7 linked regions of the Homo sapiens genome follow. The protein of the gene in region 5 purifies or fractionates together with the protein of the main gene of each other region. This does not show direct contact. Each region holds a gene or a part of one and is shown on either strand. Other genes may lie near its edges. The genes, in order: CAAP1, CDK8, ACIN1, POLDIP3, RBM33, SAFB2 and ZC3H14.

Region 1 (3,500 bases), on a different chromosome or scaffold from region 5:
TCACCACAACCTCCGCCTCCCAGGTTCAAGTGATTCTCTTGCCTCAGCCTCCCGAGTAGCTGGGATTACAGGCATGTGCCCCTACGCCTGGCCAATTTTGTATTTTTAGTAGAGATGGGATTTCTCCATGTTGGTCAGGCTGGTCTCAAACTCCTGACCCCAGGTGATCTGCCCACCTCAGCCTCCCAAAGTGCTGGGATTACAGGCATGAGCCACTGCACCTGGCCTTATTTTCTTAAATCTATTTTAGTCTCAAGTTAGAATACTTGTATAAAATATTGTTTCTTGAAAGGTTTTATTCAATTTTCTGTAGTTTTTTATGCTATTTGGAAATATTTGTTGCTTTGCGGACATATATAAAATGTTCTTTGCCATCAAATAAAATGATAATCTTATTTTTACAAGTTCTATTTATGGACACAAAAATAATTTTTTGTTTTATTTTCCACTTTAATTTTGGAATGGGGGTGGTTTTTCAATTATAAGCATGTAGGAGGATCACTGAAGGTCAGTAAATCATCATTGATTATAAAACCAATGGAGTATAATTGTTTATGTCCTTCCTGTACAGTCTGTTATCAGAATTTACCATCTGTCAATCTATGTTTTGTAAAGAAGCTTTCCCTACTGTAAGGAAAGCGCTATCAAAGCTTTCTTATATTAGGGAAAGCTAACATTTTGGGGATCATGACTTTTTAAAAAAAAAAACATATTCATGGGTGCAGCACACCAGCATGGCACATGTATACATATGTAACTAACCTGCACATTGTGCACATGTACCCTAAAACTTAAAGTATAATAATAAAATAAAAAGAAAAAAAAGAAAATGCAAGAAAAACACACAAAAAACATATTCAATATTTAAAAGATAAATTAATTAGGAATATAAGTGAGTATTCAAAGTTGCAAATGATGCCTGGAATTGAGTAGTATTCAATGCCAAGAACAAGGTGGTCGAGAACCATAATCTGTGTTTATTTATGTTGTTAGCATCAGTTATAGAAGTTTTATAACAAATGCATTTTTTAAAATTATGGTGAACTAACTTTGTTAATTAAAATCCTCGTCATTAAAACAAATTTTACCTTAGAAAATGGCCTTAGGCATTCTTCTTTAATTTATTGATTTGGAACAAAGTGTTTGAAAAAGCGTATGAAAAGATTGGGATAATTGCAATGCATATGTTGTCCTGCTTGCTGATGATACTTTTTCTTTTTTGTAGTTTATAAAGCAAAGTATTTAAACACCTTCTAGAATGAAATTTTACTGCTTGAATAGTAAGCCATACTGTATCCAGAGGATTTCCAATGTCAGCTTTCATTTTGTAGTGCAGAAGCTTTACTGTGATAAAAATGTTATGACATTTTAATTAGGAAAATAGATCATGGGTACTGCATATGATGGAAGAAATTTCTTAATGTTCCCATGTTCTACTAAATCAGAATGAAAAATACATTTGAATTTACATTACATTAGATCTGCTTTGAAGGTTGAGGAGTCAGGGGAAAAGAGGGTGGCATGGGGATTATGGAATGTGTTTGGGACTCCATAGTGGGAGGTGGGATCAAAGCAGTTTTTAAATTATAAACAGTAAGGAAATTGTGACCCATGGTATTTAGGTTACATGGATCTTTCTCCTTTTTTGGTTACAGGAAAAGGGGAAGATAGTGATGTACTCAGTATAAATGCAGATGCTTATGACAGCGACATAGAAGGCCCATGCAACGAAGAAGCAGCTGCTCCCGAGGCACCAGAAAATACAGTCCAAAGTGAAGCTGGTCAGATAGATGACCTGGAGAAAGACATTGAGAAAAGTGTGAATGAGATTCTAGGACTGGCAGAGTCTAGCCCAAACGAACCCAAAGCAGCCACCCTGGCTGTTCCTCCACCAGAAGATGTTCAACCTTCTGCACAGCAACTGGAGCTGCTAGAACTTGAGATGAGGGCAAGAGCGATTAAAGCCCTAATGAAAGCTGGTGATATAAAAAAGCCAGCCTAGGTATTTAACTTGATTTTGAATTTTAGGTATGTTTGAACAAAGCCACATCATTTAATTTTGTATCTAAAATTTATTTGGGGTCTTATATGTTATTTCTCATGTAACCCTTATTAGGACTCATTTTAGCCCTAAATTACCTGTGGCTGTTTCTTTTTATTTTTTTGACTACTTTTATATTATAAATGTGTGTTACTGTCTTATGAATTCATGGCAATATAGTTGGATAGCCTGGATACTTTGTTAGATGAGTATTTAGCTGTGTCTGCAAATCTTAAAAGCCATTAGCAAAGAGTCGTGGTATTTTTTTCTTTATTTTTAAATGTTTGGGCACCAAACCTAAAAGCAAAAGATTGACGAAGCATGTTTCTCTTAAGGCTACTTGTATTTTACAATACAATATTAAATTATTTAATTTGAGAAATTTAGTTTTGCTTATATGCACTTTTTAAATATATACTATTTTGAAGATTCCTTATGTAAATGCAAATTTCCTAGTTAAAACCGAATAACAGAGATCTGAAATGACTGAGAAAAACTTTTTTATTAAAGGAAGGAATTAATTTAAGGCAATTTTTAACTATGTAGAACTAATTGCCCATGTTTAATTATAGCAGACACGCCATTCTAACAGGTATTTGATACCATTGGATGCATTATTCTAGGTTTTTTCTTTAATAAAAATGGAACAAGTTTTCATTTACATTCCAAGCTGTCAGGAAATGAAGAATATTTTATTATCTAGGATTTTATCTGATGTAGTTGCTTAAAGATCTGATGTGCTATAATTCCATGAATCAGAAATAATAAAATGCTATCATTCTGGATCTGAAGACTTTTGATACTTTTTCAAAAGCAAAATTAATTTCAGGAACCTTTGATAAGTTGTTGTTATAATTAATCTAATTTTGTATAGTTTTTGTAAATAAATTACCATCCTTCCACAATTAGGGATGCTTTTATCCCCCCATCACTAATTGCAGTTGTTTGATACCAAAATAAATTTACGTAGAGATCCTTAACTTAAAATAAATTAATTTTTTCAAAAAACATAAATCTGGAACTGTTGTTTCTATATTTGATAACAAATACAGTATATTTTATTTATAAGCCATGGTCTACTGATACTGTATGAGGACTTTCCTTATATATAAAAGTTGCAGGGATTGTGTTTTATTAGCTGCTTTAATTATGTTAATTTTAGAGAGTTTTTAAATGGAAATAGAGGACATTTATGAAACGCTGGAATTGCAGTTACAAATTCTTTTTGTTGTTGTTGTTCCTGAACATGCCTTGGAATAATTCTACCATTTTTTCCCCCTCCATAAATCTTTCTAATAAAGCATAGAAAAAGCCTATATGATTTTAAATGCTTCTCTTAAGCTGGTAAACAGATTTGAGTTATGAGTTCATTGTTATTGCTTCAAGATGAAAAGACAGTGATATAATTTTTCTATTTCAACTTAAAAGTAATAGTTAATATGCTAAAGTAGTACAGAAT
Region 2 (3,500 bases), on a different chromosome or scaffold from region 5:
TTTTGACTTGCATTTATCAAAGATCCGTAGAAACAGCAAAATTTGTAGAGTTTACATATTGGCATGGAAATATTTATGGGTTTCCTGAATTTCAGGACTGTATTTTTGTTTCATCTTGTTTTACTTTTTTGTTTTGTTATTTGGTATTTGAAATGATAAAATATGTTCAATATCTGTATTAAAAAGGTACCTTTAGCTCTTACCAGTAGAAACTATAAATGAATTCAGTAGTAGGAATTTTTTTCTGGCAGCACATATAATACTGCCACTATTTGGCATTCAAATATAAATTTTGAACCTTATTTCTATTTAGGGCACTATACAGAATCACATTATATTGAATAATAGCATTTAAGTCTTCTCTTAGAACAGTCACAATGTGGGTGAGAGTCATAGTACCCTATGGTGAGTTAGCCTGCTGTTTTGCAACAGAGAGATGGTTTACATGTATCCTATCCCTGGTATTAGATCTCTCCAACTGTATCTCAATCCCTAGTTATATTACAGAACGGTAATCACCAAAAACTGCTCAGAGGTCCAGAATAATGAGAATTTGTTTAAAACACCTAAATTTTGGCTAGTCAAGTACTTAGTAGAAAGTGTTTCTTATTAGGAATATTTCTCAGGTCACTATAAACTCAAGACTAATAGAGATAATACCTGGGACTTTTAATTCTACATTCCCTTGTAAGGGTGTTAATTATCAGTAAATGCAGAATAACTACACAGATACTGCCTTTCTCCAAAATTGGTCACCAGTGTGGAGAAGACTTCTGTTGTGATGGGAATTTTATTTATTCAGTAAATATTTATTGAGTACCTGCCATGTGCCAGGCACTGTCTTAAGTAAAAAGTTATTGATGATGTAACAGACATGATTTTTGCCCCCTTGGAGTTTGCATTGTACTGCTATATGTAGAATGTTTAAAAAGTAGGTATGGTTTTGAGTAGAGACAGAAGAATTCTGTTTTCTTCCTGCTTCTGAATGTGTCCACCATTTCTGAGCCCACGGGAAAGGCATAGCTTCTGTGAGGGAGTAGATGTGGTGAAGATGTCTATCAGTGACTCTTAATATGTGGTTCAGAGGTTAGGGTGGTTTATAAGGAAGCTTGGAAAGCAGGCAGCAGAGGTTAGATTTGATAGCTAAAGAATGAGAATCCATCAGTTCTTGAGTACTAGAGACATGCTTTATGTTGCATTTTAGAAAGATTTAGTAAGATGGTGGTAGGTAAAAATCTGTTAAAAAGAGCTAACTGAAATCAGAAACCAGCTGTAGCAGTGCTGCAGACAGAAAGTAGAGTGAAGATAAGGATGGAGAAAAAAGGGCAGATGGAAATGTTTTATAGGAAGTGTATAAGCAAGGGAAAACTAAAGATTATCTTAAAATTTCTAGCATGAGAAATTGATAAAACACAGAAATTGGAGCAAGGAAAATAGTTAAGGAGAAAATTCCATTTAGGAGTGTAGTGTATGTTTAGTTTACAATATGTGATGTCTTTGGAGGATAGTTACCAAATATTTTTACAAGTAAGTTCAAAGAAAAGCAAGCCTCTAAAGGCCATTTAAAAGCTAAAGGTTTTGCGAGGCCGCGGTGGGCGGATCACCTGAGGTTGGGAGTTTGAGACCAGCCTGAACAACATGGAGAAACCCCGTCTCTACCAAAAATACAAAATTAGCTGGGCATGGTGGCTACATGCCTGTAATGTATTACAGGCATGGGATTACATGCCTGTAATCCCAGCTACTCTGGAGGCTGAGGCAGGGGAATCACTTGAACCTGGGAGGCAGAGGTTGGGGTGAGCCGAGATCGCACCATTGCACTCCGGCCTGGGCTGTTAACAAGAGCGAAACTCCGTCTCAAAAAAAAAAAAAAAAGAGCTAAAGGTGCTGTTAAGCTGCCTGTGACAGTCCTTTGCACCTAGTAGACTCTCAGGAAAACCCATTGGCAGATATTGGAGAGAACACATTATGTAGCATGTATTGTTTGAGCAACTTGGATGCCAGCAAAAGTAGCTGAAACGTTTTGTACTTAACGTATTTAGGAGCTGGGGTTGTTTTGGGTAATGTTAACCAGACTAGCCAAGGTACCAGCCCACTTATTAATATACTAATTATATCCTACCCTATTGTGCAAATAGTTATTACCCCTTCTTCCATTGATTGCTTATGTAAAGAAATATATTTAACAAGGTGAAAGGAGGGCTGTATCATAAAAAGAAGTATAGTTTAAAGCCACTGAGGGGAAGATCTTAGATTTCTCATTGAAGAAATTGATTGCTGACTTAACCAAGAAATTTGGTAGAAAAGGGGAAATAAGCAGTTTTACTAATAGAAAGAGGACATTTAATAAGATAAATAGAAATATGTATAACTTATTCTTCTCTAGTGACAGAAATTGAGGCAGCTTATAGTAAAACATACAGAAAGTTTGCAGTTTAAAATTTAAAATATAAACAGATATATAAAGTTATATAAGGGATAAGGAATTATGTTTACACTTCAAGATATTTACTGTTGCTGAACATTTATTTGAAGACAGCTTTTTTGTGTGGAGGTTGAACGGATAGGAAATGTAATGAACGTGGTAATAACCTTTTTAAAAATTCTCAAGAATAGGAACTTAGGCAACATAAAAATTTATCAATGTATTTCACAGATAAAGATTGGGAAGATATAAAAAAGATGCCTGAACATTCAACATTAATGAAAGATTTCAGAAGAAATACGTAAGTTGGAAAAAAAGAGACTCCTTGTTGATTTTTGCTTTACCAGAATACTCAGTGTAAGACTGAATATTCAACATAATAAAATACTCAATATAAGATTACTCTAATAAATAATTTTACTTATTTACTCTAATAAATATTTTTCATGATGACAGTCTTTATTTCTTAAGATGCTTAAATGATTATATACAAAAGTGACTAATATTAGCAGCTGATTTGGATATAAAACAAATTCATGTCTTTCCATATTGACTACTTTTTGGAAGCTAGACATTAGTGAGAAGTATCACAGCTGAATAAATAAGAATCTAAATAAATAAACTTTGGTAATAGCCACTTGCTCACCAATCTAGGTTACAGTAATTTTAAGCAGGTTTTAACAGAGAAGAATGGATATTTCACCTGTTTACAATGCAAAGCCAGGGATTGGGAGAGTTTAGTTTGTATACCTATGACAAAAGTATTTTACACTTATTGGTAAGGCTGAATTAAACTTTTGACCCAGATGTTATTTAAAATAATTGTTAAAATATAATTCATGTGAAAAAAAAAGCTGTTTAGTGTCTGTTATTCATGAAATTGTCTTACATTTAATCATCGGTATCCTTTCAAAAGTGACCATTGTGGATATTGAATGAAATAGAAAACTGATTTAATTCTACTCATTTTATGCTCATAGTGTTTTCAATATATATTTTATATCGGTTATGATCAAAATAATTCTCATCAGAAGGACTTTAGCCAATGTACAATTAACCTCAAGTCTAATATAGC
Region 3 (3,500 bases), on a different chromosome or scaffold from region 5:
TTAAGACCATGGTGAAACCCCGTCTCTACTAAAAATACAAAAAAAAAAATTAGTCGGGTGTGGGGGCGGGTGCCTGCAGTCCCAGCTACTTGGGATGCTGAGGCAGGAGAACGGCGTGAACCTGGAAGGCAGAGCTTGCAGTGAGCAGAGATCGCGCCACTGCACTCCAGCCTGGGCGACAGAGCGAGACTCCATCTCAAAAAACAACAACAACAAGAACAACAACAACAAAGTCAAATAACTGAGTTGCAATTTTAAAATTAGTATGTACAAGCAAAACAGCCTCTTTATCTACCTACTGTGAATTATATGCTATTTATTGAATTATAATGTTATTTTTGATACTGTAAAACTGCAGTGATAGGATTTCTGGATGATTACTCCTCTGGAAGAACTTGTAGTAAGTCATCAAAGAGATCTGGAGAAATGAACAGGGCTGTTCAGAAAGTTCTGGTCATCACTGTTTTGCAATAAAAGCAGAAACTGGAGGCGCCTCAGACATGAAACAAGAAATTAGTCAGCAATGCAAAATATAAAGAGATGAGGAATCTCTAGTTCCTTGGAAAGAGCTGATGTGATGCAGACAAACTTCTGAAAAAGGTGATATCTTCTATTATAAGAACATGGCCACAATGAATGTCTTAGGCCAGATGTTAGTAACACGTGTAGACAGTGAGCGCTTTAGCTAAGGGTGGAGCTGATACTGATAACAGGCTAATAAATACATTTCAGGATTCGAAAAACAAGTCAGGGTAAATATTAGATTTCCAAGAGTCCAAAGCCAGAAGGCTTCACAGAAAGGAAAAGGCAGTTGCTAGACAATGCAGGATATATTAAAGTGCAGAATGTTTAAGGGTTATAGAGGAAATAGTTCTTCATCCTAGAAAACAAATTCCTGGGTAGGATTTGTGGGACCAAAGTAAGGAAGCCAGAGATCGAAGAAAAGCCTGTGGCTAAAAGGTAACCTTAGGTGTGAATAAGAAGCAGGAATGAAGAGAATACAGACCTGGAAACAATGCCAAACCTAAATCTGACTCATGTTAGACCTGTAAGTAAGTTACCTAGCATTTCTCTAGAATTTCCGCATCCAGGTTTTAATATGGAGAAAACGGAATGAGGGGCATACTCTATAAGCCAAAGGCTGGCTAAAATCACCTTTGTTAAAGAATCAATATTCTGAATATGCATTTAAAAATGTATTTTCTTAGTTTGAGCTCTTTTTGAAAAAATTAAGGACGGTAAGAATTTCTGTACACACAGTCATGATATAGAAGGAAATTCAGACAATTTATGACTATGGTAGGTGGATAATGAGTCCTAACACCTTAGAAATATCTGAAGAAAGTGATGGAGACATAAGAGGGAAAGTCAGACAGGATTTTATAAACCAATTATTTCTTTGAGACATGGTTTCACTCTGTTGTCTGCCACCTTGACTGCTAGGGCCCAAGCAATCTTCCCACCTCAGCCTCCCGAGTAGCTGGGACTACAGGCATGTGCCATCACAGTCAGCTAATGTTTTCTATTTTTTTGTACAGATAGGACTCACTATGTTGCTCAGGCCAATCTCCTGGGAGATCCTCCCACCTCAGCCTCCCATAGTGCTAGGATTACAGGTGTGAGACACCACACCTGGACAAACCAATTCTTCCTTCCTATTTGGAATTTTGCCAATAGCATATAAACAGGAGGATGCTGGAATATAAACCAAAGATCTTGATAAATTATAACACTGAAAAACTCTTCCTTCAGTTAGTCATTCATAAAATGAATTGGTCAACAGAACCACTCAGGGACTTTTTAAAAAATGTAGAGCCCCAGGACTCCCATTCCTTGAGATTCTTTGGGTAGGGGCCAGGAATCCATATTCTTAAACATAGTAATATTAAAACAAATAAAAAATCTCCCTCAGGTGCCAGTAGCGTTTAGAAAAATGTTAGTAGGAAACTTAATCAAAAATTGTTATTCAAGAGAGAACCCCAAAACATTCAAAGCCAACAAATAAGCTGCCATTGCAATGGCATACTGGCATATGGCAGACTGAGATTCTATACCTGGAAGAATCTGATTTCTGGACAAACACTAGGGTTAATGCTGATTCAACTAAGCACTGATAGAATTCCAAATGGCCACTCCATTCAGGACCTTAACTAAATTTTGTACAACATCTATAATGGGATTCTTATCTAAGCCAAGATCAGAGGTAGAAAAGTTTATGGCATAAAGGACACTGAAGAGCATTTACGGCAATTATGAGCAGTACTCTACAATTTACCACATTCATATTTTCCAATTTATTTTTCACCTTTTTTTTTTTTTAACGTCTGGGGTTTTTTTTTTCCTCCATCAATCATTAGCCATGGGCAGGGTCTTACTGATGACATAAAGCACTGAAAAGATTGGCTACCCTTACTCTAAATCTTTGCTTTTGAAATCTATTTCAGAAATCATTTCTCATTTTCATTTCGAATTATATTAAGAACTGACAGCCTCTCTTTTTAAAGAGAGGTCCTTATCAAATCATGGTCCTATTAAGAATTTTCAATGGTTCCCCCATTACCTATAGAACTAAAAAAAAAACCCTCATACTTACTGGCCTGGCATTTAAAGCCCTCTGTGTATCACCCTCATCTACCTTTTAAATTGTTTTGCTGACTATTCTTGAATGTGAAATACTCTACTCTGGCTAGATTAGTCTACTACCTCTCCTTTAAAAATACCATTTTCATTCCTATCTCTCTGACTTTGTTCCTTCCTAAAAATATCTTCTTGTATCCTCTCTGCCAAACCATTTCTAAGGCTCAGCTCAAATCCTGTATCTCCTTATGAGGCTTTCTCTAATCACTGTAGTCCTCAGAGCTCTTCCACTCTTTTGGTTCCCTATGTCTGTATCATTGTCACATACTATCTTCTGTTGTTCGATTTATGTGTAATTGTTCTCTCTTCCTAACAGACTTTATGCTGTGCTAACTCCCAATATACTCTCACAGAGATATGTATGCAGTAGGAATTCAATAAATTTTTTTTTGTTTTATGTGAGAAGAAATACCGACAATTTTAGAAGAGCTTTCTCTTTCCTCTCGGCTTTAAAATCAAGGGGGAAAGGGCGCAGGGAGCAAAGTGGATCAGCTGAGGGTCTACTACTCTCGTATTTCAGGAGAAAAGAGGTCCCTAAGGAACTTAATAATTCCAAAGTATTGGCCAGTATTTTCTTACTAAAAGATTTCTAGAAATGTCTTTCTGGGTCTAAGACTAGGATCAAGAAAAACAGGGACTGAGTAAAACAGGACCTTAAAACTAGACTCAAAGGCTCTCTATTTTCTCTAGCCTTTTGGAAAATTTCTTTCCCACCATTAAATGTCTCCTAAAAAATCTATTTCCATGAAGAGTCTATCGCTGCTCAGCCTTTTAACTAAAATCAAGTGTAGTCCATGAAGGAATTCTGTATTAATCAGAAGAGCTGGAAACCTCCATACATCCTAAAAACACTGATTATGGTG
Region 4 (3,500 bases), on a different chromosome or scaffold from region 5:
ATTCTCCTGCCTCAGCCTCCCGAGCAGCTGGGATTACAGGCACGCGCCATCATGCCCAGCTAATTTTTTATTTTTAGTAGAGACGGGATTTCACCATGTTGCCAAGCTGGTCTCCAACTCCTGACCTCAGGTAATCTGCCCACCTCAGCCTCCCAAAGTGCTGGGATTACAGGCGTGAGCCACCACGCCGAGCCAGCTTCATGTTTCTTTTTTTTTTGAGACAGAGTCTCACTCTGTCGCCCAGGCTGGAGTGCAGTGGCACAATCTCGGCTCACTGTAAGCTCTGCCTCCCAGGTTCACACCATTCTCCTGCCTCAGCCTCCCGAGTAGCTGGGACTGCAGGTGCCCGCCACCACACCCCGGATATTTTTTTTTTTTTTTTTTTTGAGACAGAGTCTCGCTCTGTCGCCCAGGCTGGAGTGCAGTGGCGCCTCTTGGCTCACTGCAAGCTCCACCTCCTGGGTTCGTGCCATTCTCCTGCCTCAGCCTCTAGAGTAGCTGGGACTACAGGCGCACACCACCACGCCTGGCTAATTTTTTGGTATTTTTAGTAGAGACGGGGTTTCACCATGTTTGCCAGGATGGTCTCGATCTCCTGACTTCGTGATCCACCCACCTCGGCCTCCGAAAGTGCTGGGATTACAGGCGTGAGCCACCACGCCCGAACTTTTTTGTATTTTTTAGTAGAGACGTGGTTTCACCGTGCTAGCCAGGATGGTTTCCATCTCCTGACCTTGTGATCTGCCCGCCTCTGCCTCCCAAAGTGTTGAGATTACAGGCGTGAGCCACCGCACCTGGCCCATATTTCTCTTAATTACTAACCAGGAGGCTGGTCCACATACTCAGGACAGTAACCAAAACTGAGTCTTTGAGCGTCTGAAGGAAAAACAAAAGAGGTGGCTGCCACAAGGACCCACCTAGGCAGCCCACTGGCCTCCCTGTCTGACACTTGGCTGTACCACTGAGCTGAGCAGCATGGACCTCCCTGATGATCCCAGATGTTGTTTTCTTTCCTTCTCTGCATGATGTCTGACCAACACTCTAGCCTAGCAAGCTTTCCCTGCATGCAGGCTGCACCTGGTAGAGCCCACAGATCAGGTGAGATGTATTCCTGCTAATGTTAACCAACGGAATCCAGACTCCAAGAGCAGCGCCAGAGCTGCTGACCACAAAGGGTTACGAAGCATGCAGAATGGCCAGCCACCAAGGAAAGAACACAGACTCCCCACTGTGGGATCACTCACACTTTCCCTATAGTGTCTCAAACACAGCACCTAGGAGCTGCAGCCCTGTACTTCACTTGCTGTGGGACCTTGAACAAATCAGAAGGCACCCCAGTGTCTCAGCGTTTATAAAACTAAGGGAATGGACTAGTTCCAGCTCTGAAAATCTTACGGCCCAAACAAAGAAATATTTCTGCATTGAAAGGCTCTATTCACGCCGGGCGCAGTGGCTTACGCCTGTAATCCCAGCACCTTGGGAGGCCGAGGCGTGCGGATCACCTGAGGTCAGGAGTTTGAGACCAGCCTGGCCAACATGGTGAAACCTCATCTCTACTAAAAATACAAAAATTAGCTGGGCGTGGCGGCAGGCGCCTGTAATCCCAGCTACTAGGGAGGCTGAGGCAGGATAATAGCTTGAACCCAGGAGACGGAGGTTGCAGTGAGCCAAGATTGCGCCATTGCACTCCAGCAGCCTGGGGGAGAAGAGCGAGATGTCGTCTCAAAACAAAAAAAACAACAGGTTCTATTCAACACGACCTCTCCCACCTGCCTGATCAGACACGCAGTGTAAGAAAACATGAAATGCCATACCATGTGGTGGAGAAAGCCGCCTGAGGCTGCAAACTTCATCTGTTTAGTAGGAACGGAAGCTATACCATCATCATCTTCATCCAGGTCATATAAATTCTGAGAATATAACATAAAGAAATATAAGCAAATGTGGCATCTGGGCCCTCAACAGACATCTAGAACAGGCATGGCAAGGAAATGGCTGCTGGAGAAACAAAGGGACCAAGGAGAAGTGGGCACAGGGGTGACGGTGCCTGGAAAGACTGGGGCCCAAGTCTTCACAGGCTAACTCCCTGTCAGCAAGGACCCAGTGAAAGTCCTACAACTTCCAGATACATCAGAAGTCCCTTTTTCCCAGTGGGCAGTATGTACCAAGAGTCCCTAAAATGTTTCTTTATATCCTTTGGCTTGGAAAGTCCATCCTTGTTAATATGACCTACAGAAATAAATCCAAACCCTAGAAAGAGCTTTATTTACAAAGATGTTCACAGCAGAAGGATTTCTAACAGTGAAAATGACAGGAAAATGGTTTAAATAAAACTGGAATGCCAACTATATAGATTTTGCAGTTACTAAAACATGTACAGTAAATATGAAATGTCACAGAGAAATGCTTGAGTTACAAAGTGAAAAAAGAATGATACAAAATTGGATAAGAATATAACCATGGCTGGGCTCAGTGGCTCAAGCCTGTCATCCCAGCACTTTGGGAGGCCGAGGAGGGCGGATCACGAGGTCAGGAGATCGAGATCATCCTGGCTAACATGGTGAAACCCCGTCTCTACGAAAAATACAAACAATGAGCCGGGCATGGTGGCATGCGCCTGTAGTCCCAGCTACTCGGGAGGCTGAGGCAGGAGAATGGTGTGAACCCGGGAGGCGGAGCTTGCAGTGAGCCGAGATCGTGCCACTGCACTCCAGTCTGAGTGACAGAGCGAGACTCGGTCTCAAAAAAAAAAAAAGAATATATAACCACAACCACAACTATGAGTTAAGTAAAAAACAGACTGGGGCTGGGCACAGTGGCTCACGCCTGTAATCCCAGCACTTTGGGAGGCCAAGGTGGGCGAATTACCTGAGGTCAGGAGTTCGAGATCAGCCTGACCAACATGGAGAAACACCGTCTCTACTAAAAATACAAAATTAGCCAGGCGCGGTGACTCATGCTTGTAATCCCAGCTACTTGGGAGGCAGAGGCAGGAGGATCGATTGAACCCAGGAGTTCGAGACCAGCCTGGGCAACATGACAAGACTCCATCTCTACAAAAATTAGCCAGATGTGGTGGTATGCACCTGTGATCCCAGCTACTCAGGAGGCTGAGGTGGGAGGATCATTTGAGCCCAGAAACTCAAGGCTGCAGTGAGCCATGACTGCACCACTGCACTCCAGCCTGGGGGACAGAGTGAAACCCTGTATCAAAAAAAAAGAAGCGTACATGTAAGGAACTATGGCAAAATTTCAACAGTGACTGGCTTTGGAGAATAGGAACTTGAGGGACTTTTTGGCAAGTTTTCTATATTAAGCACATAGAACTTTTATTTAAAAAAATTAGGCCGGGCGCGGTGGCTCACACCTGTAATCCCAGCTCTCAGGGAGGCTAAGAGGCGGGAGGATAGCTTGAGCCCAGGAGTTCGAGACCTGCCTGGGCAATATAGCGAGACCCCGTTCTCCAGAAAAAGGAAAAAAAAACAAAACAAAAGACAAAA
Region 5 (3,500 bases):
GGAGAGGAGCATGGAAAGCCAGGGAGATGGGAAGGTCTGAGAGAGTGAGTCTTGGAATGGGACAGGAGCTACCAGTGTTAAGAATGGTAGATGGGTTTAGCCAGGAAAGCAAAACAGAAATGGACAGAGAGGGAGAGCCCAGAGCATGGCATGGTGAGGTGATCCCATTACTAAATGAACAGTAGCAAGAAGCAGGCACGTGGAGCAAACAGAATCAGCTCAGACATGAAAAAGGTCACACTCTGTGCTTTGCTGCTGTGGTACCTGAAAATTAAACAGTGGAATTAAAGCCCCAGAGTTCAAGTCCTCACAGAGGACACCATCCTGGATCCCACGCCTGTGAAAAGCAAAGCTGGATTATAGAAACGAGCGGTGGCTTTTTTTGCTCCTTCGGCTCAGGGCACCCCTGTGTGCTGTGCGCGCGTTATTGAAAATGTTACCCACCTAAGAAAAGACTACAGAACGCATACAGCTAGAACGCATACAGCTTACACAGTCCTTGCAAAACCAGCTTCCGCCACGGGTGCCCTTAAAATGAAAAGCAGTTTAAAAGAAAATCATGCTAAAAGAATGCATGAGGTCTACTTTCTAGAGTATATTAAATTATTAAATACAGAATACATTACAATAGTACCTGTCTGCCTATCCACTCTATGGAACATATTAAAATAAAAAACTACATGCTGTTTCTTTTTAAAGGCCTACATTTTTCTATATACCTTTTAAAATCAGTAAAATAAAACCAAGCAAAATATCAACATGAAGACCTCCTTCTCTTTTAGTTGGTTAGAAGTCAAAGGAAAAAGCAAGTACTCAGAAGTGTCTCACTAAAATACCTGTTCCGTCCGCCAATCTTAAAGATTTCCTACCAAAACATGACACAGAAAAGAGAGAGTTGAGACATTAAAAGCATTTTCTAGCCAAGGCAGGTTACAATGTGTGAGGCAAACGGCCTTTTCCAGCCATATGCTACCAGCAGAAGGTATACCTGGGGATCCAATATGAATCAGTGAGTTCCGCTTTAGTTCCAGTACACAAACCACGGGCTTATGCACCTCAGAAGTTAGGCATTTAAAAAAAATTAAATAGGTTGCAAAAAAACCTTACATAAAATCCTTAGGATTTAATATTAAGTCAAGGCTAAATGCCTTTGGAGAATTCATATTTAAGAATGTCCAAAATAACACTCCATTCACAAACTTTAAAAATAGCTGAAAAAGTTAACTGAAATGCTCTTTAAATACACTAAAGTATCTAAGCCTCTCCCTAGTCGATCTGGACTAGCGGCTTTCCGAGTGGTGGTAGTCGGGTGCCTCCGAACCTTTCCTGCCCTGCACACACTCCTATCAGTCAACTCCCTGGTAGAATCGTCACCTCTAATTTTTTGAAAAACCAATAATACCTTTCGAGCTTTCTCTCGCCCACCCCCCTCCCTCCCACTCCAAATTAAAAAAAAAAAAAATGGGGTGGAGGATCATAGCTTAATGAAGGGAAGCCAACCTGGGTCTAAAAGCGATTACGTCAAGCCATAGCTGAGGCCTACAAGTAGGGAGGGAGGGTAATAAAAAAACGAATCCCAGGAAGAGCACCACGAAAGCGGGAAGCCTGAAGTCACCCACAAAGGGCACTGCAGACACCGCACCAGGAATGTTTCTTAAGAGCTGGCAGTCCTCTCCAGGGAGAGAGCAGAGGAGGGGAACAGCCGCAGGGACTAGAGAGTTTCTAGGACTCCACGATGTGCCGGCACAGCATGCTGCCATCACACACGCTGACCTCCTTGTCCTGTGCAATTACATGACTAGGACCTGCCTTCGACAAGCGTCTGATGGTCTATGAGCACATTCCGCTTACCTTCCCAATAAAATAACAAAGAAATACAAAACAAAACAAACAGAACAAAACAAAAACAACAAAAGCCAAAAGAAAACAAGTGATGAGTGATGAGTTCTTCAAACCCATCCCAGGACAAGGCTCCAGGGCCTCGGGGGTCCCTCACCTGCCCTACCTGAACTGTCCCAGCTGATCACCACCCAGTGAAGACGTTCCCCTCCCCCACTCCTCCAGGCCATCCAGCGGATGCCCCTGTGCCGCCAAACACCCTGGCCCAAGGGCTCTCAACTCCACCGACCGGACTGGATGACCTCCCCTGATAAGCCAGTGTGTTAGAAGCAAGTTGATTATTAACACTGAGATGACAGCTTCCCCAATCCCCAGGCCTCTCCTCACCTGGGTCTGTCCATCCCTTCCTCCTTTTCACCCTAAACTCCTCTTCCACCTCCTTCAGTAACAAAGCCTTCTGTTCACAGAACTGAGCAAGATGCTGTTTGAAAAAAAGACCCCTGGGTGCAGGATCTAAGCTCTGCCACAATTCAGAAATGCCACAGAAGCAAGCTTCAACAACTGTTTGCCTGAGACCTTTACAAATCATGCTAAGAATGACCCATATTAAAAATAGTTATGGTGAAGCCACCTCCCGCCCCATCCCATCTCCTCCAGCAAGGCAGGGTGCGGGTGCCTACGGAGGCTGCTGCCTGTCCACAAAACAGAGAAACCCCTCAAAATTTGTCTGGAAAAATGATGAGATTTACTCTTTAGAAGAATATCAGTATAAGGATTTAACAAACGTGGCCAGACCAGTGGTAATGCAAGGTTATCTAAAGTAGCTAAGTGAACTTCTATTACAGCACAAAACCAAAACAAGATAATGCAAAAAGAAAAGAAGTAACTTGGCTCCACATAATCAGCTATTGGTTTACCTTATGAGATACTGATATTTACGACCTTTAAGCTTCTTGAATTTGTGAACAAATAATACACAGATCAGGATAAATGTATTGACTTACTACCATCTTTATAAAAATCGAATATACACACAAACACATCAACAACTGTGGAACTGTATCCATTAAACTTTGATAAGACAACACAAAGAACTAATAGCTAAGATGTGGCTGAGTTGAAAGCACTTCCAATAGTATTTTAATTTTAAAAGGTCCATATTTACATGGTATGCTAAATGCTCTTGCATCTCATTTTAAATGCATGATGAACTCAAGAACAAAGATAATGGTTGCAGCAGATCTTCCACGAGGGTTTGGCTGGTGTGGGCTGACTTCACGTGAGCAGCATACCAAACACCTAAGTACCATTCCTTTCTCATTCTGCTTCTTTCCTTTTCTGTAGTTTCCTTCAAGGAAACTAAACCTTCATTACTGGGATTGTCTGGTACTAAGAATCCATTTTCGATGGTTGTGGGTATTGAGTGAGGTCGGACTGTGTTGGACTGTTCTAATCAGCGCTTTAAGGCGGGCCTGCATGACTTTGCCAATCACCTTTCAAGAACATTCTATGAGAAAGTCTGCCTATGTGCACGTGTAGACAGTTAGAGAAACACGCACACCCCAGGGCCTGTGTCACACTCAGGTAACACCAAAACAGACCTTCCAGTGGCCATGAAGTCCACCTTAACAATGAAGGCCCAAACAGGATCCGTTTTATTA
Region 6 (3,500 bases), on a different chromosome or scaffold from region 5:
ACACTCATGTCCATCATGCCCATATTCTGCAGGTTCTCCAGACTTGCTTCCATGTCCTCCTGTAAAGAGGAAGAAGAATCGTTAACGACCACCTGGACCAGGACAGGGAGCTGCTGCTTGTCATCTCTACCCTGACATCACTTACCTGCCCGTCTCTGGAATCGTCTTCCAGGCCATTATCTTCTGTGCCTTCCTCCTCCATCTTCAGTCCTAATTACAGAATAATTGTTCAATCAGATAACACTCAAGTTCTACCTCATAATTAGTTTATGCAGAATAGATTTCAATCTTAGAACAGAACACATTACAAGATAAACTATAAGTCTCCCCTCTCCTGTCACACGTAATTTTGTCTCAATTTGTTTTCTTTTTTTTTTTTTTTTTTTTTTTTTTGAGATGGAGTCTCCCTGTGTCACCCAGGCTGGAGTGCAGCGGCACAATCTCGGCTCACTGCAATCTCCACCTCCTGGGTTCAAGCGATTCTCCTGCCTCAGCCTCCTCAGCAGCTGGGACTACAGGCGTGCATCACCATGCCCAGCTTATTTTTGTATTTTTAGTAGAGATGGGGTTTCACCATATTGGCCAGGCTGGTCTCAAACTCCTGACCTCGTGATCCACCAGCCTCGGTCTCCCAAAGTGCTGGGATTACAGGCATGAGCCATGGTGCCCGGCCTCAATTGGTGTTCTAAGTAAGCCATCAACAGGGAGATGAAAATCTAGGATTCCTCTTAGATTCAGAGTACTCTGATTTTCCACAAAATATCTAAAAGTTTCCAAATATTTCAAAAACACTCCAAACCTAAGAAAAAAAATCACAAAAAAATGAGCAAAGGATAAAAACAGGCATTTTCAACAAACCAACAAAAAAATGCAATACCCATCTAGTAACCAAAGAACTGCAACATAAAATAACATATTGAGTTAGTGATTTGCTGGCTCTCCCTATATTCCACCCATTTCAAGTAGGTCTTTGTCATTTTTTAGCTCAAGAACTTTTTTTTTTCCCCCAAGGCAAAAAGGCAAAGGCTGCCATAAAGTCGAGAATCATCCTGGGTTTTGTGACCACAAAATAACTATTTGATAGAATTCTGCTAGGAATTGCAAAAGGAGGCCAGAGGAGTTCAAGAGTGGAAACCTTGAGAAGAAACTTGAGGCTCTATATGTATCAAAAACCTTACAAATGTGCATACCCTTTGTTCCAGGAATTTGAGTCTTAGGATATCTGACAAGGAGTTCAAAACATAGATATCTGTCCTATTATACCTGTTAAACACCCAAAAGGGAAACAAATTACAGCATATTTTCATTCAGATATGGTTCACAACCGGGGGGAATGGCTGGCAATGTCTGGAGACATTGTTAGTGGTCATGACCTGGGGGAACGCCATTAGCATCAGTAGCTAGTGATGCTGGTCACGACCCTGCAATGCACAGGATACTCCCCAACCCCAGAGAATTCTTCGGCCCAAATTGTCAACAGTGCCAATGCTGAGAAACCCTGTGGGACACCATCCAATGTCTCACAATATTTAAAGAATGTATGCTTTTAAAGAATATTTAATGAAACAGAAAAAATGCCCACAGTGTAGGCACAGTGGTTCACGCCTGTAATCCCAGCATTTTGGGAGGCTAAGGCAGGTGGCTCGCTTGAGCCTAGGAATTAAGAGACAAGTTCGGGCAACAAAGTGAGACCCCCATCTCCACCAAAAATACAAAAATTAGCCAGGCATGGTGTTATGTACCTGTACTCTGAATTACCGGTGAGAATGAGGTGGGAGGATGCTCCGAGCCTGAGAGCTTGAGGCTGCCACGATCATGCCACTGCCCTCCGCTCTGGGCAACAGAGTAAGACCGAGTCTCTCTAACATACACACCGATAAAGAAAAATCAAACAGAAAAAAATACATACTTTCCCGTCTCTACTAAAAATAGAAAAACAGCCGGACGTGGTGGCGGGCGCCTGTAGTCTCAGCTACTCGGGAGGCTGAGGCAGGAGAATGGCCTGAAGCCGGGAGGCGGAGCTTGCAGTGAGCCGAGATTGCACCACTGTACTCCAGCCTGGGCAACAGAGCGAGACTCCGTCTCAAAAAAAAAAGAAAGAAAATTAAACATAAAAAACCTGCAGGGTCTACACCTCAAGAGTCTCACTCACCACTATTATCAATAATCACTCAAGAAATGCAGTTTAATTGCATGTCTCGCAACGTGAGCTTTTTCCAGTCTATCATTTAAGACGCCTAACAACGCTAGCAGGTTTTATTATCTGCATTTGACACGAGAATTTGGTTGAGCTCCAAAGCTGGCACTCTAAAACTCAGCTGTCCCACTTCGCATTATATCTAAACACAGCATATCCTTTTGAAATACGTTGTCTAAAAATGTTTGGTAATTGCACCCAATTTCTAGGCCCCTAAATAGTAGCCTGCAGTGCCCACATAGGCCGGAAATAGGAGAAATGCTGACCAAAAAGCATCACAGAAAAGCTAATGTGGCGCAGACAGGCGACGCCCCAATCCCCGGCACCTGGCATTGGCCAACGAAAAGCTGCCGCTGCTGGGGACACAGATGTAAGAAAATCCAACTTTAATCCCACATGGCATCTAAAACTTAAATTTTTAATCCAAGTTTTATTTTTTCCAAACCCACCTACAATGTTGCCTAGGACTCCTAATCTTGGTGAAGACCCTTACTCTGATTTATAATGAGGACACTTTTCCCTCAACAAGTTTGGCTACTTCAGTTTTTGCAAGGAAGCAGTTACTGGTGAGTTCCCAGAATGAGTCCAACTTTGGACTCAACTGAACACTGCTGCATAGTGCTTGAAACGAAAATTAACTGGTGAATTCCTCCTGATCTAACAGTTGTATGTAATCACAGGCCCTAACTGCAACCACAAAGTCCTAAGGCTCTTGTGCTTTATCCATTAGCCACGTGCCCCGACACCTCTAGAGAACATCACCAGCTCAGGATGGAAGATGAGGCCTGCAGGGCCTGAGCACCACCTGAAGACCTGGGCTCTCTCTGGGCTTGGTTACTTCTCTGAAAAAGGAATGGGAAGGGATCAGAAGCCCTTCTAACCCTCACTAGAGCTGAGGCTACAAAAGTCCTTTTTATAGCAACAGAAGAACTTTATCATCCAAGCTTTCCTGACAAAACACTAACTCCAAGTAGTTTTGAATCCACCTAAGCTTTAATCTAGACATTCAGGCAGGTCTTCAAAGCACTCAGCTAAAGTTTAGTTTTTCTAATGATGCAAAGATCATTAGAAATGATCCCTGCTAGGCCGGGCACAGTGGCTCATGCCTCTAATCCCAGCACTTTGGGAGGCCCAGGCGGGTGGATCACCTGAGGTGAGGAGTTCGAGACCAGCCTGGCCAACATGGATGGTGAAACCACGTTTCTACTAAAAATATAAAAAAGTAGCTGGGCGTGGCGACGGGCACCTGTAATCGCAGCTACTCAGGAGGCTGAGGCACAAGAATCACTTGAACCCGGGAGGC
Region 7 (3,500 bases), on a different chromosome or scaffold from region 5:
TTCCGTAAGACCAGCTTACAGCTGATTCATCTCCTGTTTTGAAAACGTAATACTTTTATATTCTCTCATAAAATTATTCAGTACTTCCACTAGAATTGGAGCAGGAACATCACAAATGAGTCAATTCTCTGCCTTATATTCTACTAATGAGTTCCGCCAAAAGGGAAGAAACCAACCTTGTTTATATACTACTGTTTAACAAATTTCTATAACTTCAGATACCTATCATTGTCCAATTGTACTCCCCTTTACACATCGTAAATTCATATCTAATGTTGAATCTAATGCTACTAATATGAAAGTCCTACTTCATCAAAATTCTCTTCAAAATATTTACGTACTATATATTTTACACACATTGGAAAGATATAAAAGGCATTATATGGTGCTTGAAAAACTACAGTCCAATAACAGTTGGCGAAGTTTCTCAAACTTGTCAATTTCCTTTTAAAGCCATTTTTCTATATGGGAACCTCATCTTGGTCTTGACATCTGACAGGCACCTTTATTTTACAATTTAAGGAGCAATCATTTTCACCTTACTCAAGAATTACAGAAATGTCTTACCAAGTGTAAACATAATACATTTAAATTACCTGTAGAGTAGTTAGTTGTTTTTGTTACGGATTCTTGAGCTTCAGATATAGCCTTCAAAATCAGATTCTTGTTAGCTTGTTTAGAAGGTGGAAGAGAAGGTCTAAAAGAGTTAAGAAAGGTATTTTTATTAAACTTTAAATTTCAGTTCCTCACAGGCCAGCCATCTATTATGCCTTTACCACAACCTTCTCTAGGTTTTAAACAGACTAGCTGCAGTTTTTAGAAAATGCCAACTACACTGGAACCTTATTTTTTTTTTTAGACAGACTCTTACTCTCTCACCCAGGATGGAGTGTGATGTCACTGCAGCCTTAAACTTCTAGGCTCAAGCAATGCTTCCACATCCACCTCTCCAGTCCAGGACTACAGGTGCCTGCCACAATGACCAACTAATTTATTTTAATTTTTTTTAAGAGACAAAGACTCATTACATCGCCCAGGCTGGTCTCGAACTCCTGGTCTCAAGCAATCCTCCTGCCTCAGCCTCCCAAAGTGCTAGGTACAGGCATGAGCCACCATGCCTAGGCCCCTTTTAGTTTTTTTAAATAATAAATCTGAATCTTAATTGATGTTGTTCCTCCTCACCCCACCATATTAGTCAATATTCTCTGCAATCCTCTCCAATGTTAAGCAATTTCTCTCATTAACGTGTTTCTCAAAACCCAATGGAAAAGTCTTACACGGTATTACATTAAATATTTATGTCAGGTGCGGTGGCTCATGCCTGTAATCCCAACACTTTGGGAAGCTGAGGAGGGCAGATCACCTGAGGTCAGGAGTTCGAGACCAGCCTGGTCCAACATGGTGAAACACCATCTCTACTAAAAATACAAAAATTAGCTGGTCATGGTAGTGCACACCTATAATCCCAGCTATTCAGGAGGCTCAATCAGGAGAATCACTTGAACCTGGGAGGCAGAGGTTGCAGTGAGCCGAGATCGTGGCACTGCACTCCAGCCTGGTTGACAGAGCGAGACTCCGTCTCAAAAAACAAACAAAAATTATTTTCGTGATTATTCTCTTCAATAAATCAGGAAGACTCCACCAAGGCAGTTAAAGATTAATTTACAGCCATGTTCAAGGTACCTCCTTTCAGGCTTTGCAGGCACAGACACACTGCTGGAGATGCTTCCTGTTCGAGACCCGTAATCATCATCTTCTTCCTCCTCTTCTCCATCATGATTGAATTTTTTTACTTTAACAACTGAACTTACCACAGGCAACTTTCTCTTCCGAAAGTTTTCATCCTGCAATCAGATAAAATTTATGCTTACCTAATCTCAGAAAATAACAAGAGTTCTACCACAAAATGTTTCCATTTTAAGAAAAAAACAGTACACAGTAATATGAGAAATTCACAGAGTATTTCTTGGTTTTATGTAAAAATATAAATATGAGGCTGGGTGTGGTGGCTCACATCTGTAATCCTAGCACTTTGGAAGGCCGAAGTGGGCGGATCACAAGGTCAGGATTTCGAGACCAGCCTGGCCAATATGGTGAAACCCTGTCTCTATAAAAATACAAAAATTAGCTGAGCGTGGCGGCATGTGCCTGTAGTCCGAGCTACTCGGGAGGCTGAGGCAGAAGACTCACTTGAACCCGGGAGGTGGAGGATGTAGGGAGCCAAGATCATGCCACTGCACTCCAGCCTGGGCGACAGAGTGAGACACCGTATCAAAATAAATAAATAAATAAATACTATAAATATAAATATTATCCCTAACAGTCAACCTTTAGCTAAAACAAAAATTAGAACTTTACATTTATTTTATCAACAGCTGCATATAGTGCTATTGAGGAAACTAATAAAACAGAGTTAATTGGTTGCTCACTAGCAATTACCATGAACAATCTAAAATTGATTGAAACCCCCCAAATTAATTTAAGATTAATATCTCAAATGCTGGAAATCCCAAAAAGGTATACAGATGTGATACAAAAGAACTCTAGGAGCAAGCCATGGGGAAGAAAATCTGGTATAGCATGAGAAACAGCAGATAAAACAATTTAAAAATAAACTTGGGGCCAGGCGCCATGGTACATGCCTGTAATCCCAACACTTTGGGAGGCCAAGGAGGGCAGATCACCTGAGGTCAGGAGTTCAAGACCAGCCTGGTCCAACATGGTGAAACACCATCTCTACTAAAAATACAAAAATTAGCTGGTCGTGGTAGTACACACCTGTAATCCCAGCTATTCAGGAGGCTGAATCAGAAGAATCACTTGAACCTGGGAAGCACAGGTTGCAGTGAGCCAAGATCAAGGTGGGTGGATCACAGGGCCAGGATTTCAAGACCAGCCTGGCCAACACGGTGAAACCCTGTCTTTGCTAAAAATACAAAAAATTAGCCAGGCATGGTGGCGGGTAATACCAGCTACTCGGGAGGCTGAAGCAGGAGAATCGCTTGAACCCAGGAGGTGGAGGTTGCAGTGAGTTGAGATCGCGCCATCACACTCCAGCCTGGGCAACAAGAGTGAAACTCCTTCTCAAAAAGTAAAATAAAATAAAATAAATTTGGAATATGTGTTTTTTTTGTTTTTTGTTTTTTCTTTTTTGGTTGAGACGGAGTCTCGCTCTGTTGCCCAGGCTGGAGTGCAGTGGCACGATCTTGGCTCAGTGCAAGCTCCGCCTCCCAGGTTCACGCCATTCTCCTGCCTCAGCCTCCCGAGTAGCTGGGACTACAGGCGCCTGCCACCATGCCTGGCTAATTTTTTGTATTTTTAGTAGAGACGGGGTTTCACCGTGTTAGCCAGGATGGTCTCAATCTCCTGACCTCGTGATCCACCCGCCTCGGCCTCCCAAAGTCCTGGGATTACAGGTGTGAGCCACTGTGCCCAGCCTTGGAATATGTGTTTAGTTACTTCATATATTATTTGGTATCAAGAACTGCCGATTTTTAGCC

Evidence for each region.
Region 1: the proteins of RBM33 (region 5) and CAAP1 purify together in Homo sapiens (affinity purification with mass spectrometry; one large-scale study listed by BioGRID and IntAct). This does not show direct contact.
Region 2: the proteins of RBM33 (region 5) and CDK8 purify together in Homo sapiens (pull-down; one large-scale study listed by IntAct). This does not show direct contact.
Region 3: the proteins of RBM33 (region 5) and ACIN1 purify together in Homo sapiens (affinity purification with mass spectrometry; one large-scale study listed by BioGRID and IntAct). This does not show direct contact.
Region 4: the proteins of RBM33 (region 5) and POLDIP3 purify together in Homo sapiens (affinity purification with mass spectrometry; one large-scale study listed by BioGRID and IntAct). This does not show direct contact.
Region 6: the proteins of RBM33 (region 5) and SAFB2 purify together in Homo sapiens (affinity purification with mass spectrometry; one large-scale study listed by BioGRID and IntAct). This does not show direct contact.
Region 7: the proteins of RBM33 (region 5) and ZC3H14 purify together in Homo sapiens (affinity purification with mass spectrometry; one large-scale study listed by BioGRID and IntAct). This does not show direct contact.

Annotation. Positions count from the first base shown.
Region 1 is NC_000009.12:26,840,803-26,844,302, reverse strand, and holds part of CAAP1 (caspase activity and apoptosis inhibitor 1), read left to right. Parts: intron 1-1,655; coding exon 1,656-2,002; 3' UTR 2,003-3,500. UniProt on the Homo sapiens protein: Anti-apoptotic protein that modulates a caspase-10 dependent mitochondrial caspase-3/9 feedback amplification loop.
Region 2 is NC_000013.11:26,393,629-26,397,128, forward strand, and holds part of CDK8 (cyclin-dependent kinase 8), read left to right. Parts: intron 1-2,656; coding exon 2,657-2,726; intron 2,727-3,500.
Region 3 is NC_000014.9:23,085,137-23,088,636, forward strand, and holds part of ACIN1 (apoptotic chromatin condensation inducer in the nucleus), read right to left. Parts: intron 1-3,500.
Region 4 is NC_000022.11:42,597,884-42,601,383, forward strand, and holds part of POLDIP3 (polymerase delta-interacting protein 3), read right to left. Parts: intron 1,911-3,500; coding exon 1,815-1,910; intron 1-1,814. UniProt on the Homo sapiens protein: Is involved in regulation of translation. Is preferentially associated with CBC-bound spliced mRNA-protein complexes during the pioneer round of mRNA translation. Contributes to enhanced translational efficiency of spliced over nonspliced mRNAs.
Region 5 is NC_000007.14:155,777,161-155,780,660, reverse strand, and holds part of RBM33 (RNA-binding protein 33), read right to left. Parts: 3' UTR 1-3,500. UniProt on the Homo sapiens protein: RNA reader protein, which recognizes and binds specific RNAs, thereby regulating RNA metabolic processes, such as mRNA export, mRNA stability and/or translation.
Region 6 is NC_000019.10:5,616,277-5,619,776, forward strand, and holds part of SAFB2 (scaffold attachment factor B2), read right to left. Parts: intron 211-3,500; coding exon 146-210; intron 60-145; coding exon 1-59. UniProt on the Homo sapiens protein: Binds to scaffold/matrix attachment region (S/MAR) DNA. Can function as an estrogen receptor corepressor and can also inhibit cell proliferation.
Region 7 is NC_000014.9:88,573,037-88,576,536, reverse strand, and holds part of ZC3H14 (zinc finger CCCH domain-containing protein 14), read right to left. Parts: intron 1,845-3,500; coding exon 1,684-1,844; intron 698-1,683; coding exon 597-697; intron 1-596. UniProt on the Homo sapiens protein: RNA-binding protein involved in the biogenesis of circular RNAs (circRNAs), which are produced by back-splicing circularization of pre-mRNAs.